Regions from separate parts of the Homo sapiens genome. Here region 1 is linked to region 2. A link means that fine-mapping ties the variant in region 2 to the expression of a gene that starts in the linked region. Tissue or cell type: whole blood. Region 2 holds a variant in brackets; the other region holds the start of a gene. All regions are shown on one strand. Distances are between the middles of the regions.

The links.
Region 1: it holds the start of UQCRB, and the variant in region 2 is fine-mapped to the expression of UQCRB in whole blood (TOPMed, PIP 0.97).

Annotation. Positions count from the first base shown.
Region 1 is chr8:96,230,783-96,239,120 of GRCh38, forward strand. It overlaps UQCRB (ubiquinol-cytochrome c reductase binding protein), which reads right to left and starts at 4,763. Exons shown (of 4, transcript NM_006294.5): 1 at 4,730-4,763; 2 at 2,374-2,445; 3 at 992-1,158; 4 at 1-350. The coding sequence starts at 4,748. The coding sequence ends at 273. UQCRB-AS1 (UQCRB antisense RNA 1) reads left to right here and starts at 4,511. Exons shown (of 2, transcript NR_183275.1): 1 at 4,511-4,779; 2 at 7,125-8,338. RefSeq lists an enhancer at 4,490-4,769.
Region 2 is chr8:96,252,223-96,260,560 of GRCh38, forward strand. MTERF3 (mitochondrial transcription termination factor 3) reads right to left here. Exons shown (of 8, transcript NM_015942.5): 2 at 6,135-6,478; 3 at 4,740-4,892. The coding sequence starts at 6,468. Among named protein-coding and RNA genes, the nearest start is that of MTERF3, 5.2 kb to the right of the region's middle. RefSeq lists an enhancer at 8,141-8,338. The variant G/A (reference allele first, on the strand shown) is at 4,016.

The DNA.
Region 1 (8,338 bases), 21 kb before region 2:
TATCCAACCAGTGAGGAAAACTGATAAAGTGGCTTCTGAGCTCCAAGTAGCAGTTAAACACAACTAAATATATCTTGAAAGTTTGGAAAAAAATTTAACAGTAAAGGGATTCAGTAGTTATTCAGTATAAGGTTTGGAATTCAAAAACTCCAGCCATTACAATAGACATTTATTTAAAGTAAAACATCTTCAGACCAAATAATTCTTAAAATTGTTTGTTTCAAGTTTAACCATCTTCATAACAGCTGCATCCACAGACTTCAACTACATGATTACTTCTTTGCCCATTCTTCTCTTTCTTTTCTTTCCCGAATAACCTCTTTCAGATACGGTTCAAGGTAGAAATTTTCCTAAAGAATGAATGAAATATTATATGTTACCATCACGTACTGATATATCCCAAACACTCAACAGGTCTTCAATAACAAGAAAAAAGCAATTACTTTTGAATTTCCAATTTTAGAAAACATATTCTCAACCTAAGAACTATCTGCTTTTTAAAATGTCAAATCTGTGGTGATGGTGTGATAAGTTGCTTTGATAGGTTATGAGGGGGAAGTCTTTTCGGGAAGAAAAAGAAATGAATGTCCACAGGCCTTTGCCTAGTTTCAATGCAGTTCAAGGGGTGAGAGTTTGCTTCACAGAAGCTCTTCTTGGGATCTGGAGGGACACTCAATGGGCTGATCTTTTCATCTAAGTAGGAAGCAGAGTGCAGAGCTGGAACAGCAAAGACCTGGGAGGCAACAGACCTGGATTTTAGTCCTGGCTCTCTATATTAGAGACTTGCTTAGTAATTTCAGAAGAATCATTTCACACGTAAGACTCAATGTGGTTTTCTTCTAAAACGGAAATAACATTTGCTTTATTAACCTCACATATTTATTTGACATGACTCAGAGAACTCTAACACTATGCAAATGAACATGTTTCTCTTGTTTCTAAAACTCCATCCTTAATGAGCAACACTGTCAGGTAGATAAAGCTGTGCTACCTCTTCATATTTGGTCCACTGCTCTTTAGGCAAGATCTGATGCTTCAAGTTCAGGTCCAGTGCCCTCTTAATGCGAAACATCCTGTCATTATAAAGGTTCTCAGGAAGTCTTCTTATGGCTTCTTTTACATCTTCATCCTCGTATATTGTATCATCTCGCATTAACCCTATGATAGATGACAAAGTTAGATTGCACATGCATCTCAAAAATCGCGGTTTTTTTAAATTAGTAAAATACCTTTATGACTTATAACTTACAACTTTTGGTGAACTATCGAATTCAAATCACTAGGTTCAATGGAAATTCAATGCATTTCATACATTATAGGTTGGTGCAAAAGTAATTGCAGTTTTGCCATTAAAAGTAATGAGTTATTACTTGATATAATGGGTTACTTCTTGAACTAGACTATGGAAACAATATATGAGCCTCTTAAAATCCAATGCCACAAAATTCATATTTTATCTAAACCATTTACAAAATATTTTAAATGTTTACTTTGTTTTTAAACACACATTAATAAACCACATCTCTTTTTTCTCATAGTTTAAATCTGAGATCAAGGTATTAAAGAATCTTAAAATGATAGTATACTAAGGAACAGTGACTTTTGCTTACACTTTCTTCAAGCTTCAATAGTAAAAGATGAAGTTCATGGTAAATTACAAAGTTCTAAAAAAGCTTAGGAATCATATGATTGCATGGACGTGATAAAATTTTAATATTCAAAAACTCTCTACTTTCAATGTTTATATAATTTAAATTAAAATTTTAAGTGGAAGGCCGGGCGCAGTAGTGCACACCTATAATCCCAGCACTTTGGGAGGCCGAGGCAGGTGGATCACCTGAGGTCAGGAGTTTGCGACCAGCCTAATATGGTGAAACCCCGTCTCTACTACATACAAAAAAAATTAGCCAGGCGTGGTGGCACACGCCTGTAATCCCAGCTACTCAGGAGGCTGAGGCAGGAGAATCACTTGAACTCGGGAGGCGGAGGTTGCAGTGAACCGTGATTGCGCCACTGCACTCCAGCCTGGTGACAGAGCAAGACTCTGTCTCAAATAAATAAATAAATAAATAAATAAAATTTTAAGTGGAAGAGTTGGGAAAGGGGGTGTAGAAGGAAAATGTCTTACTACTTAAATCATTACCAAGTCGAACATTTTAGAGGCTTTCATCCCTCTTCTCTCAAAAAAACTTTAAAAAGGAACTGGATTTAACATAATGTGATTTAATTTTAAAATCTTCTGATGTATACAAGAACTGAAATGGTTTTTGGAACCACAGTAACACTTGCAAAAGCAATACTCTCAGAAAAACAAAAAAAAAAACAAAGAAACAACAACAACAACAAAAAACATTAAACAGCACAGCTGCTTACCCAGTTTATTGAATCCTGCAGCATTGTAATACCATTTTCGAATACCATCCAGCCACTTGCCTGATGCTGAAACTGATAATTGTCACACTGTTAATTGCTACAATTTAATTATACTATATGAACACATTGATAGGCAAGCAACCAGTACTCAGTTATCTTGCTGATGAATGCAAACATAGAAATAAATTTCCTTTTAAAAGTATATAGTATATACAGCAAGAATTTAATCAAAAGAATTAGATTTAAAAGAAAAAAGTTTATACTCTATAAAATGTTGATAAAAAGTGCTTATTTTATTTATGAGCAAAAGTGGTTGCAGGAAAATGGTGGCAAGTCATGAAAGAAAAGGGTAAACTCAAACACTGAATGTACAAAAGATCCATAGGTACATCGTGTGCCCTTATGCCTGCCCTGTTACCTTCAGAAATGAAGGGGTGGGAGATAGGAAAAGGACTTGGAAATTTCCATCATTTGTAGTTTCATAAATAGATCACAGGAAATAATTGTAAACTTTTCATTTCAAGAGAGCTGGAGTTGTAGGGAAAAGACAGTGAGATTTCAGCATAGACTGGCAGGTCTAAATGACCCTCATCCTCTAAAATTTTTACTCGATATTACAGTTATTTCATTTGGCCACATTCTTTAAAAATGTATGTATTTTGGGGAGGATTTTGATACCATTAGTCATTTAAACATTAATATGGATTCGTAAAAGAAGTCCATTTACCTCCTCCTAAGCAACTAAGTTCCCCCCAAGGGAATGGATATTGAAAAAGGATGAGAAATAGGTAATTTTAAAACTGTTTGGGGAACAGGGCTGAGCCTGATGAAGTAACCCAGCAGGGTCCAAGTACAGCAGGACCGTATCTGACATTTTAGGAGAGACATTTTACAAAAGGAGAGGTAGAACAGGTTTGTATTCTCTTTTAAAATTTTGTCTAGGGTTAGCCCTTACCAAGGAAGGAAAGCAAACTCTCCTTTCACTCAACTCTCCTTGCTTGCAAACTCAGTGCACTACAGATTACGTGGCTTTAGCAAATCTCCTTGGAAATTAAGAGTCATGTATAAAACTGCTGCTAGAAAAACAAGTATCAGTCAACAATCTACAAACATACTTGTGGAAGACAGATTATATTCAACCACCTATCAGTGACTATAATAATATTCACTAAGCACTTATTGTGCACCAAACACTTTCCTATTTGCTTTACCAACATTAGCTGATTTATTTACATGTCTGTTACTACAGAAGGGGAAGCTGGCTTACAGAAGTGATCCCACCCAAGGTCAGAGTTAGCTAATGGGAGTTGAGATCTGGTCTATGTAGTTCCCAAACACGCACAGAAGCAGTGTCTTGAATTTAGTAAGACTCCTTCAATATCTGCCAAATTAATAAAATAATTATTTAAAAAGTCTCCCCCACCCCCAAAAAGCTCAATGTCAATTAGGTTAACGGATGTTTCTGGCAACCTGATGTTTCCTAACAGCTTCACAATTGCTGGGGGCGGGGAGAAAAGGATCAACATTTTTTAAGCTACTCCAACTTGGTTGCATTGCAGTGAGACGAGATTGTGCCATTGCACTCCAGCCTGGGCGACAAAGCAAGACTCCGTCTCAAAGACAAAACAAACAAACAAACAAAACGGCTACTCCAACTTGTACCGCCAGAGGGCAGAGATTAGCAAAAAAAAAAAAAAAGAAAGAAAAAAGAAAAAAAGAACCTACAATAAATTCAAATTTCTCCAAACCTACTGATCAAGCTGACGCTCTAGATAATCCAAGGTCAACCTGAAGCGTCGCTCGTATCCCTTGCTCAACTGTCTCTGATTCGCAGTTTGAGAAGCGCGAGGGGTGCAATGATATTTCCAATTCTACTTCCTTGGGTCACTTTGCCTCAGTTATCTTATCAGCGTAAAAGGGAAATTAATATCTCCCTCGTCGCAATGGCAAGAAAATTTATAGGGCCAATGCACACGATAGAGCACTTGGGTCATAGAAAGCACTGAGCTCATTCGGGTTGAAAGTCATCCACTAGTTATCCTCTTGTGCCCTTTAACTTTTCTAAGGCCAAGGGGAAGGACTTCCAAGCACGGGCAGCTGGAACTCCAGGGCTGTCAGAGCCACCGCGGGCACCTTCACAAACAGCGGGTTAACATCCCAACCCTATACAGGCAAGCCCGCCCTGGGGACAGCAAACGAGTGGGGAAGCACATCCTTTTCACTGGACTGAAGCAGCCAATTTCCCTTCCGCGACAAACTTGGCCACTTACAAAGAAGAGAGAAAACGGAGCAAGCTGCAGCAAAAATAAACGGTGAAGCGCGACGATGCCGGCCAAGAAGACCCCCAGTTACTTACCGGCCTGCTTACCAGCCATTTTGACCAGAAAGAGAAGCGTTGCCTTCTGGGTAAGTCATAGAGGACAAGCTGGGCCCAGTCCGCAGGCGCGTTACGTCACATCGCGAACAGAGAAAGGCCGCTTGCGCAGGCGCAGTTCTGACGACTGCCGTTCAGCACCTGCGTAAGCACCTCTCGGCCAGGGTGAGGCCAATGGAGTAGGCGGGGCATTTTGCGTGCTACATTCTAAGAAGTATTGGTTGTGATGTGATGGGAAGAACACAGGTCAGGAATTAGGAGACCAAGGCTTAAAGCTGGGTTCTGTTATTTGCTGTTAATAGCTATGGGAGCGTGGACAGTATTAATTCAGCTCTTTGTGCCAGGCAGGAAGCTAAATGTTTTAAGGGCATCGTCTTACTTTCTATTGAAGGACTGATGGATGTGCCATCCCAAAAATATATGGAATTGGTACATTGATTATTTCGAGTTGAAAATATTGGAGAAATTGTAGTTTCAGAAAAGGTTTGATGACCTATCTCTTCCTGCATGCAGCAAGCCATAAAGCTTCCTCCAGGATTCCTCTGGAGTACCCGTCCCTTACCAGAGGGAGAAAATAGCACCTATCACCAGAGACGAAACTGGGGGCTGCTTTGGACCTGAATATACTTTCCGAAGTAACCGTTATCTTCCACTAAGTTTACACCCCAACACACACACTTTTCTCCTAATGACTCCGCGAGAAATTTACTGCCCCTAGCCAGATCCCCTTTCTTCTGATTTGTAGTTCGTGTAAAAAGTATAAAGGCATCTTACATTGGCCACTTCACTCTTTTGTGCGGATCCCCATGTACATGTAAAACTAGTAAAATTAGTATGCTTTTCTCTTGTTAATCTGCCATGTGTCAATTTGGTTCCTAGATTCAACCAAAGAGCCCACATAAGAGCAAAGGGGAGGGAGGGTTGGAGGTGATCTCTCACTCCCCTAAACTATCTTTTAATTCTAAAAGTACTGTAATTATCTCATTGTAGAGAGGAGAAAGCTGAGGCTCAGAAAGGTTGAATAACTTGTCCAAGAGCACATGACTAGAAGAGTCCAGGTTCTTCTTCCAGAATCTGAAAATCCAGATGCAAATTTGGGGCTCCTTAATTCTAGGGTCATATGCTATACTGCTACACTACTAATCCAGGAAAGACACCAAGCCTTTCAGGCCTTGGGTTTCTCCAGCTGAAGATCTATATCTAGCTATTTTAGTGGAAGGTTAGGTCAGAAAAGGTTTTGGGTTTTTTTTGTTTGTTTTTTTTCACCCTTTTTTTTGTTGTTCAGCCTCTGTCACCCAGGCTGAATGGCACAATCTCGGCTCACTGCAACCTCTGCCTCCTGGGTTCAAATGACTCGTGCCTCAGCCTCCTGAGTAGCTGGGACTACAGGTGTACACACTACCATGCCCGCTAATTTTTGTATTTTTAGTAGAGACGGGGTTTCACCGTGTTGGCCAGGCTGGTATCAAACTCTTGACCTCAAGTGATCCACCCACGTCAGCCTCCCAAAATGCTGGGTTACCCGCGTGAGCCATCATGCCCAGCAGAAAAGGTTTTTAAAGATTAAATCTAAGATGTATTGCAGAATTTGCACACAATTTTAAGACAAAAGAGAAGTATATAGATTTTCTCACTTTTAAGGTCTCAACCCCAACATGCGAAGTCTTAGGCATAAACATCTAGAGACAGAAAACAATTAGGGGGAGCTAGCATGACTGATAGTTACTGGTGAACTTCTACCATTACTCAGTGATATCTTTTTTTTCCCCTCAGTTTTAAGCTCAGAGCTGGGACAATATAGAGTAGAACCTTGTCTCATCCTAAGTTCAAAAGGTTAGATTTAACGATCTTAGTCACATTCCAGTTCTAAAATTATATTGATTTTCCTTTTTCTTCTATCTCCATGCTGTCACAATTTCTTCATTAGTCAGTCCTGTATACAGCACTAAAGCTGATGAATGATCTATCTTACACTAGCCAAAGTGAAGTCTGAAAGATGTGAAGAAATGCAGTACATTTGTACATTGGCACATTGCCCTGCAGAGGGTAGGTACTCAATAAACTCTCCTCCCTTCCACCCTTTAAGTTTTAGCTTGCTGGTTACAGGTGAAGGTGGCAAGAAAAGACATATCAAAAGATCTGAAACCCAAAATTGTCACAAAATCCAGCTCCTAAGGAATTAAGCTAGAGAGACTGAATGTTTGCTGGTAGTGATTGTTGATTCAAAAACTATTTTTGGTTTTCTTTCCTCCCAGCACAGGATTAGGGATTGCCTCTCTGCCCTATTAAAGTTAGGCATGGCCATGTGATACTTTGGCCAAGAAAAATGTGATAACTTTTTAAGAGCAATTCTTCACATTCCTTTCCTTTTCCATAGACTGGCAACACTCCAGAAATGATGGAGACAGGATACATCAACCTGTATCACTGAAGATGATGTGGAGCAGAGCCTTTGTGGTCCTAAGAAACATGTATAAGATAAAAACTTTTGTGGTTTTTCAATCATTTGAGGTTTTAGGATTGTTCATTGTATCAACACAACTTGCCTATTCTGACTGCTAAGGTTGTTCACTGGGTTATTCATAAAGGCAAAATGAGGTTGTGAGCCACAGAAAGAGAGGACAGGATGGTTCCATGGTGTCCCCAGCTTATTTTTTATTGTTTCCTGTTTATTGATCTCATCCATTGGAGAACTCCATGAAAGCACATATCTATGCCACACTCACCACTGTATTATAGAACTCAAATGTCGGTTGCATGAATAAAATATGTAACAGGAAGGCCACTATACCTGGCCCTGACCAATTACAAATTTAGTTTTTCATGAGGTTTTTTAAAGGGCATCCAGCACACCACAGAACCCTGTGCACAACAAACTACCCCCAAAGTTAGCGGCTTAAAACACTTTCTCCCAATTCTGAATTCCGCTGGGTCGTTCTGCTTAGTGTAGTATCTACTAAGTCTGGGACATCCCAGATAATTTCTTCATGCATGTCTGGTGCTCAGTTGGCATGTCTGAAAAAGCTGGGTTTGGCCAGACATCTTTCTGTCCACCTAGTTTCTCCAGCAGAGTAACCAGACCTCTCTACACAGTAGCTTAGGGTGCCAAGAGCAAATGTTCCAAGAGGGCAAGCCCTGATGTGCAAATCCTTAAGCCTCTGCTTGACAAATGTCCTCTGGGCCAAATCACATCGGCCCAGAGTCAGTGTGGGAGAGGACTAACTACACAAGAGTGCAAATACCAGGTATGGTTCATGGGGGCCCCCAGTGTTAACAGTCTACCCAATCTGGTGATCATAAGGCAGACAACTGAAGTCATGATGCTTCGTTTTACAAATAAAAAAGCAAAGGCTCAGAAATGAAATCACTTGCCCAGGATAACACATGTTGTAAATGGAAAACAAATATTTGTTTACTGGTAATAAGTCAAAGGCTAGTTAAGCCTTTCACTATATCTCATTGCCCCTAATCTTTAAACTCCACTTTCCTTTTCCTTATTCTTAGCCAACTGTGAATATCTGTGTTCAAGAAGTTAACAATGTAGATAATCCAAAATGAAGTGTGTTTTGTAGCATTATCTGAGCAGTAGAT
Region 2 (8,338 bases):
TAATACGCACACTCAATGAAGATGAGAAACAGATCCAGAATAAACTAAAAAATGTTATTATACAAACAATAATGCATTTCAAATCAAATAGATAGACTATTTGTTAAAATATATGGGACCATTAGCTATACTTTTGAAAAAAATTATCTTTATATCTTATACGGAAATTAATTCTAGATAAAGAATCTAAACATACATTAACTCTACTAGAAAAACAAAAAAAATTACGTTTAACTACAGAATAGTATAAAACCTAGTGTAGAAAAAGGTCTGGAAAGCTATTCCACAATTTGGTTAATAGTGGTTACCTTTGAGAAGTGGAACTGGGGACGAAGAGAGGGTAAGAGGTCCTTCTCTTATAATATCTGCACTTTTGACAACCGGATGTAATTCTTTTGTAATTTAAAAATAATATTAGTAGAAAAATAAATCCAATTATTAGATGGACAAATAAATAAGATGAAAACCAGTTCCAAAAATCTGTGATAAATGGGGGAGCGGATGCTCTAAAAATAACATAAAGGGTTCAGACTTCACATTTAACTAAATATTACAGCTGACATGAACTGAAGTGCTTTGCTCAGCATGAGCTGTCACACCCTGACTGTGCTCGAACAGAAATCCTGAAAAGCTGCTTTTTAACAGCAGTAGGAGAGCAGAATCTCATCAGGAATGCACACTGCTCTCAATGCAAATAACTTGGGCTCACTTCATTTCATTAACTTGAAAAAATATTCCCTGAATGCCCACTATGGACCAGGCACTTTTTTAGGTATTGGGGTTATAAAAAAAGAATAATACACGATTCTAACCTCTAGGTGACCAGTCTAGTTGGGCTTTACCTCATCAGTTCAGTAATTACGAATATTACCATTTTATTCAGTTATGGTTACACGTATTTAGTACATCAATCAGGGTCTAGCAGGCTATACAACGTGCCCTGGAAAGTACAAATGACAAGGACTTTAATGAAGGGACTCTATACAGCGGTGTGAGCAGCCTTAAGAGAACAAACAAGAGCCTTCCCAACAATAAAGAGACAAGGAGGCAAAATGTTACCACGGCGCAGAGGGACTAGAGGCTATTAAGGAAGGGCTGCTCAAGAGTGCTGTTGTCATGGAGTGAGGCAGGTACAGGACCCAAAGAAGGGAAGGAACGGGAAAAATATCCCCACCTGACCCTTCTACCTTCTGTCCTGTAGGTGCCTCCCACTGGCTGAAGCTGCCAAGAAGCCAGCTGGCATAGGAGCCCTGGTGCATAGGGGTTGGCCTCCTGGGATACAGATCGGGCAGAAAACAGGTCTCAGAAGCAAACAGAGAAAAAACTAGGACTTGGGTACTCAAAAATACTGTCTGACAGAGCAAATAAGGCTCCCCTAAGTTACTATTATTTAAGTTACTTCTAAGACATGCTGTTGAAGTATCAGCATACAGGTAAAGGAATGGCTGAAACATATTCCAAACCTGTAAGTATACTGTAAATTATTTAAAGATAAGGACTAGGCCAGGCACGGTGGCTCATGCCTGTTATCCCAGCACTTTGGAAAGCCGAGGTGGGAGGAAAGCTTGAGCCCAAGAGTTTGAGACCAGCCTGGGCAACACAGTGAGACCTCCCTCTATTTAAAAAAAAAAAAAAAAAAATTAGCCCAGATGGCATGTGCCTATAGTCCCAGCTACTTGCGGGGCTGAGGTGGGAGGATCACTTGAGCCCAGGAGGTCAAGGCTGCAATGAGACAAGACTGTGTCACTGCACTCCAGCCTGGGTGACAGAGCAAGACCCTGTGTCAAAAAAAAGATAAGACAGGGACTGTGTCTTAGGTTTTATCTTGTATCATCCATAGCACCTGCCATAAGACAGGGAAAGCTGTTTCGAAAGGAAAAGTGACTGTCTCCTCACAGCAGACATCATCTTTTTCCTGCCTCTGAATGTACACTTTTTAAATTATATGTTTATGGGATACAACATGCTGTTTTGACATTTGTATACATAGTGGAACGATTAAATCAAGCTAATTAACATATTCATTACCTTACATATTCATGACTTTTTTTTGTGGTGAGAACACTTAAAATCTACTCTCTTAACAATTTTCAAGTATACATTATTATTAACTACCATCATCATGCTGGACAATAGATCTCCAAAACTTATGCCACCTGTCTAATTGAAACTTTGTACCCTTTGCCCAACAACTCCCCATTCCTCCCCACCCCACTCCCCAGCTCCCTCTGCTCCTATGAGTTCAACTTTTTTAGCTTTCATATATAAGTGAGATCACGTAGCATTAGTCATTCTGTGCTTATTTCACTTAGCATAGCATCCTCCAGGTTCATCCGTGTTGTTGCAAATAACAGGATCTCCTTTTTCAAGGCTGACTAGTACTCCAGTGTATAAATATACCACATTTTCTTTAGCCATTCATCCACTGATGGACACTTAGGCTGATTCACAGAACACTTTATTTGCCTCTCATGTGGGACTTATCACTTTGCTCTTCATCCTTGCATTCCAGTTATTCTTATATATTTAGATGTTTCTGAGGACTTGAAGCTTCTTGAGAACAAAGGCCATTCTAAACATATGGGTAACATATGGGTAACTGGGCACAGACAGATGAGTATACAATTATAATAGAGTGTCATTAATGCTAGGATCCAAGTAAGCAGGGAGTGAAATGAGAGCCTGAAGAGGGTCACTCTGTCTGCAGGGTCAAGAAGACACTTTAGAAGTTACTTGGACTTCAGTGATGTTCTCCAGTTGTTGGAGTTGGCTAAACAAAGGAGGGAAGTGGCAAGCCATGAAGCTGAACAGGTAAGCAGAAGCCAAATCAGGAAAAGCTTTGATGCCATGGGAAGGTTTTGAAGGATTTTAAATAGGTCACTGACTTAGATCTGCATTTCAGAAAGAGCACTAACACTGGAAAGATATCAGAGCCAATACTGCTGAGGAGAAGACTATCAAGATAGGAGGCTCCTGCAGCCACTCAGTGACAAATGAGGACCTAAACAAGGTAGTGACTGTAGGATGAGAGAAGTGGATGGATTTGAAAGAAATAGAGAGGGTAGAATCCATAGGATAAGCTATTAAATTAGATGTAAAGAGGAAGGGGACAAAAGCAATAAGAATCAAGGATAGGCCGAGTGCGGTGGCTCATGCCTATAATCTCAGTACTTTGGGAGGCCGAGGTGGACAGATCCCTTGAGGCCAAGAGTTCAAGATCAGCCTGGCCAACAGGGTGAAACCTCGTCTCTACTAAAAATACAAAAAATAGCCAGGCATGGTGGCACGTGCTTGTAATCTCAGCTACCAGGGAGGCTGAGGCAGGAGAATCACTTGAACCTGGGAGGCAGGTTGCAGTGAGCTGAGATGGTACCACTGTACTCCAGCCTGGGAGACAGAGTGAGACCCAGTCTGAAGAAAAAAAAAAAAAAAAAAATCAAGGATGACCCCCAAAGTTTCTAACAGAGCACAGATTTTTCTCTTTTTCCTCTCCTGTTAAAAATCACCTCCCAAAAATATGGGGAATGACAAACAAAAAATGAGATCCTTCTTTGAGGAAACGAGATTATATCCCCACATATCTGAAAACATCTGAAAACAGATGAAAGCATGGCAACAGCCTTATCGGAGAGGAGAAAGACGACACTGAAATGCCTGCAAATGAGAATCTGGCAAGTGGTAAGTGATCAGTACCACAAAAAACTCAAAAGTCTCCAAAATTGGAGTCCCTAGAAATCTGAGAGATTAGAGGTGAGGTACAGACTAAAAACTGGGGTATTGGGTATGGAGAGACCCGACCTCCCCCAAATCCAGTTCCTCTCAATGCACTAGGAGAAAGGAGATTCATTATCTGGGAAAATCAAGTATGAGAAGTACCAAACCCAGAGAAATGAGGAAAGCAAAAGTTTGTAATAAAATGCCAGACTAAAAATAAGATGACTAAATGAAAGTTTGGACGGAGATCCCCTGGCTCCCTTAAGCTATCCAGATCCAAGTGCAACCTAATGGTCAACAA[G/A]TGAAGGCAGCTATAGAGTAGGCCTAGAAACCATTCAAATCAGGAGGACAGTGGCTTCAGGAAGGAGGTCGGGGTAGTGTGACAAGCAGGGAACAATCCACTCTGGAGAAATGAAATACATCATCTGATAGGGTTACCTGGGAAAAACTGTCCTGAGAGGCTACTGGAAGGTATGGAAAAGTTTAACCCCAGAAACAAACAAACAAACAAAACAATTCATCAAATGAAGAACAAGGCAACTATTACTGCCGGAAAAATGAAAAGTTGTACAGGAAGGTAAATAATGATAGCATACTTCTTGTTAGGGCAGATAGCAATATTTATAGTCATAATTTAACTACTGACTAATGATTTATCTAAAATTGTAATTTATATTAGGAGAATTGAAAAGAATACAGGAAAAGTACATGTGTACATACAAGAGATCAAATGATGTCTAAAACTGATGAACCAAACAACAGCACTACAAACAACTATTTTAAAATGAGGAGGTTGAACACAAACAGAAAGAATGATACAAGTTAAGTAGATGCATCTGGGGAATAGGATGCAAGATCACCAAGGATGAGGCAGGGAATACGGTTTCTCACTAGAAGCCTTTATGCTATTAGACTTTTGCTTATGTTTGTATACTACTTAGTATAGATTAAATTGTTAATTTAAAAAAGTAAAAAAAGTAATGAAGAGTACATGCAAAAAGTACTTGTAGTTTAGTCAAACTTACCTAGAAGAACCAACTTCTGCAGAGTCTCAGAATGATCCACATAGTCTCGAAGTGTGAATGAAGCTGGTGGCAATGGAGGGTCTGCAATAATCTGAATAGCCTCTTCCTCTGAAATTGGCTGCATTGGAGACAATGGAGGCAATTCATCCAGTTCTTTGAAAGAGAGAAACAAATTAGTGCTCTAATATGCACACTTAAAACTATTTCTGCAAAGACCAGCTCTTCCCTTGTTTGCTTCTTTCAGTGGTTAAATCTTGGGATCATTTTAGAATTAAACATCCAAGTCCCTAATTTTTCACCTTTTAAGAGGTAAGGTTACAACTATTTAGACAGACTAACTACTGTTCCTCTGAGATTAGAAATTTGTTGGTAAATTTCAAAGCACACAATGCCTTTCCTTCACTTAATCAGTAGGTGAGAATGCTAAAAATCACCTAACTTTCAAGTGAATTTTGAAACAGAGATTGAGTTTACCATAGCCTGTTAACTTGGCTAAAAGTACACATATGCCAACAGTCTGAATTGCATGGATTAAAGTAATCATATCCCGAAAGTCTTTGTTTTGACCCAATGCCCTCCCTTCCAAGTTACCCTCAAATACATCTTTAAAAGGGCTTCTATGATTGTTTCTACAACCTGCAGTCCTCTCTACAGGAGATGTGACTCTCTAGTACAGCCCTGATTCTGAAGTTGTTTTTGTTTTTTTAAAATCAAACGCAGCATGGAAGACACTTAGAACTACACATTACCTTAAGCTAAGGAATCAGGTCTGTGATCTTTTGTTCTGTTTTGTGCTTCTCATCATTAACTATCCTTTCTCATCATTTATAGCCAGCATCTCCTCCCTGCCCTCTCCCCAGCTCTCTTTCCTTCATATTCTACTTAACCTTATATCATTTCATTACCAGCGAAATATTCCTAGAATAGGACCCATAGGAAGGAGAGGATTGACTAAAAAGCGACCATGAGGGAACTCTGTGGAGTTAATATAATTGTTTTATTTGTTGATTGCAGTAGTTCTTACACACTAAATGCATATGTCAAAATTCATAGAACTATATATCCCACAAGATGAATTTTACTTGATATAATTATACCCTAATAAAACTAATTACCACTAGAAGAATTTTGTTTTAAGAATCTAAACAATAAAATATTTAAAAAGCAAATGTTTTATATGTGTAGCTATAAAATAATCTTACACGTTAGCCCACAAACTTTTTTTCTTACCAGTAAAATAAAGGCATGATAGAAGTTCATCAATAGAACTGGTATTATTCTTTTTCTTTCTTGGCACAAAATATTACCTGAAATGGGCTAGCAGAAGGTAAACAGGTAGCTTGTTCAAATGGCCAAAGTAGGGAAAGGGAGACTTTTCTGAAAGTTCAGAATTACCTTCTAGAAACAGCTCAGAATCAAAGCTGGATATATTTTGTGTCTTCTGTGACTGTTCATTCATGGAAGGAAGCAGACTGCTTTGGGCAGAATTATTCTCCTGACTACTTGAGCTAGTAGACTGGGAACTATTCCATAAGGAGGAAGTCCTGTAAGTCTTAAATCCCCACTGGAGAAAGCAATTGTCAGAGGATATCTGAGGCTGAGCAGAAAAGCCATGTAACAGTGTTCTTGCTGGTCTAGTAAAACGTTTTGTGAGTTGTGCAGCATTAATGAGGCTCCTCAACTTAACTGAGTTAAACCATCTGGGTATCTGTTGGGCTGACAAAGCCATTTTTCTTAGTCTACAAAGGAAAGATATAACCGTCAAAAGAAGAGAAATTTAATTTACTTAAATGTTTAAAACGGTATTCAAACAACAAAAAGATAAACTGGAAATTATTTTTTTCTAATTGAAAGGTGTTTAAATATATATTTAGTCTAAAATAGTGAGATGTTTCTTATGTACAGGAAAAGCCAACAACAAGGCAATCTCAGTTACAAACCAACAGACAGGAACTTCTGAGTGGAAAAATAAAGATATACTTTACAATTTAAAAACAAAATGCAATGACACTGGTGTAAGAAAAATGCTTAAAACAAAAATCTGCAAATGTTCAAGTGACAGCAGACCTCACTAATCTGTTAATTTAATCATTTAAAGAGAATAAGCTGATGCAAATAAGTGTTCTTGAAATTTGGTGTGAAGGGTGTTTCCGCAGCACATTGCTGATCAAAGTAACACTGAATTATTCAAATGCATTTTATGTATATAAATTTGTCCCAAAATGAAAAAACAGAAATCTACTGTGTCCTAAACAAATCATCAAAATATTATCATTGATATACAGAACAGTGAAAGCAGTTTCTTGCTTCATTCTCAGGGCTGAACACTGTTGATTACTTCACAGATAAAGCTGTTCTTCCAAAGGGAATTGAACAAAACCAGTTTTGTCAAGTTTTGTTTCACTGTAGGAAAGGAGAAAAAAGCCTTCAAAAAGAAAAGGTCAAAACTAGTAACAAAACCAAGTGACAGAAATAAATAAGCAACCAGCAATTAATACCTGTATATTTTGACTGAAAAAGTAGTTTTCAAAAATATTTTTATCAGGAAAGGCTAGTGCTATGTTAAACTCCAGGAATATGAAGGGATTTTATATTTAGCCAGCTAATTAGAAAGGTAAATTTGATGCATATAATCTTACGTTAAATAACATTATCCATATAAAACACAGGATGGAGTCAGGATATAAGAAATGCTCAATAAATGTTAGCCATTATTATTGGTTACACAACCAAATACAAAAATTCTGCTGAATTAATTGCTGCCTACAACTTTATACTTTGTTTTTCTGCATACTGGAATTCAGCTTGTTTTATGCTCTAAATTAGACCAAATACTTGAGGGTCTAATCTTTTCTTGGAGATCTGTAGTTTTGGGAAGTTTGCTGAAAGAGATTTTACAAAAGTGAAAGTTTCCTTTCATTCTGCAATTATTTATTATTATTATTATTATTATTTTTTTTGAGACGGAGTTTCGCCCTTGTTGCCCAGGCTGGAGTACAACGGCACCATCTTGGCTCACTGCAACCTCTGCCTCCCAGGTTCAAGTGATTCTCCTGCCTCAGCCTCCCGAGTAGCTGGGATTACCCACGCCCGCTACTATGCCCGGCTAATTTTTTGTGTTTTTAGTAGAGACGGGGTTTCACCATCTTGGCCAGGCTGGCCTCGAACTCCTTACCTCAGGTGATCCACCCAGCTTCCCAAAGTGCTGGGATTACAGGCGTGAGCCACTGCGCTCGGCCCATTCTGCGATGATTTTAGAAAAGAAGTAAGTATTCACAATACCCTGCTGGGATAGGTGGTTTCTGTTAGATTTTGGTGGGAAATGGGACTCCAAATGTGCCAAGTTTTCCCTCAAACCTACAACATTCATTCTCTGCACGGTAGTCATAAGGGCACTAAATTGAAAGTCAGAAGACCTCGGTTGTGCTACCTTGACAAGGCTGTTTCTGGCAGCAGTCTAACAAAAGCAGCAGTCTAGCCCATGATGTGGGGGGTGGGGGTGGGGTCAATAACTATTCTTCAAATAATGCTTTTTTAAAAGGCTAGGGGTACAATAAGATGATTCTTAAGGCCCCTATCAGCTCTAACATTTTTTGACG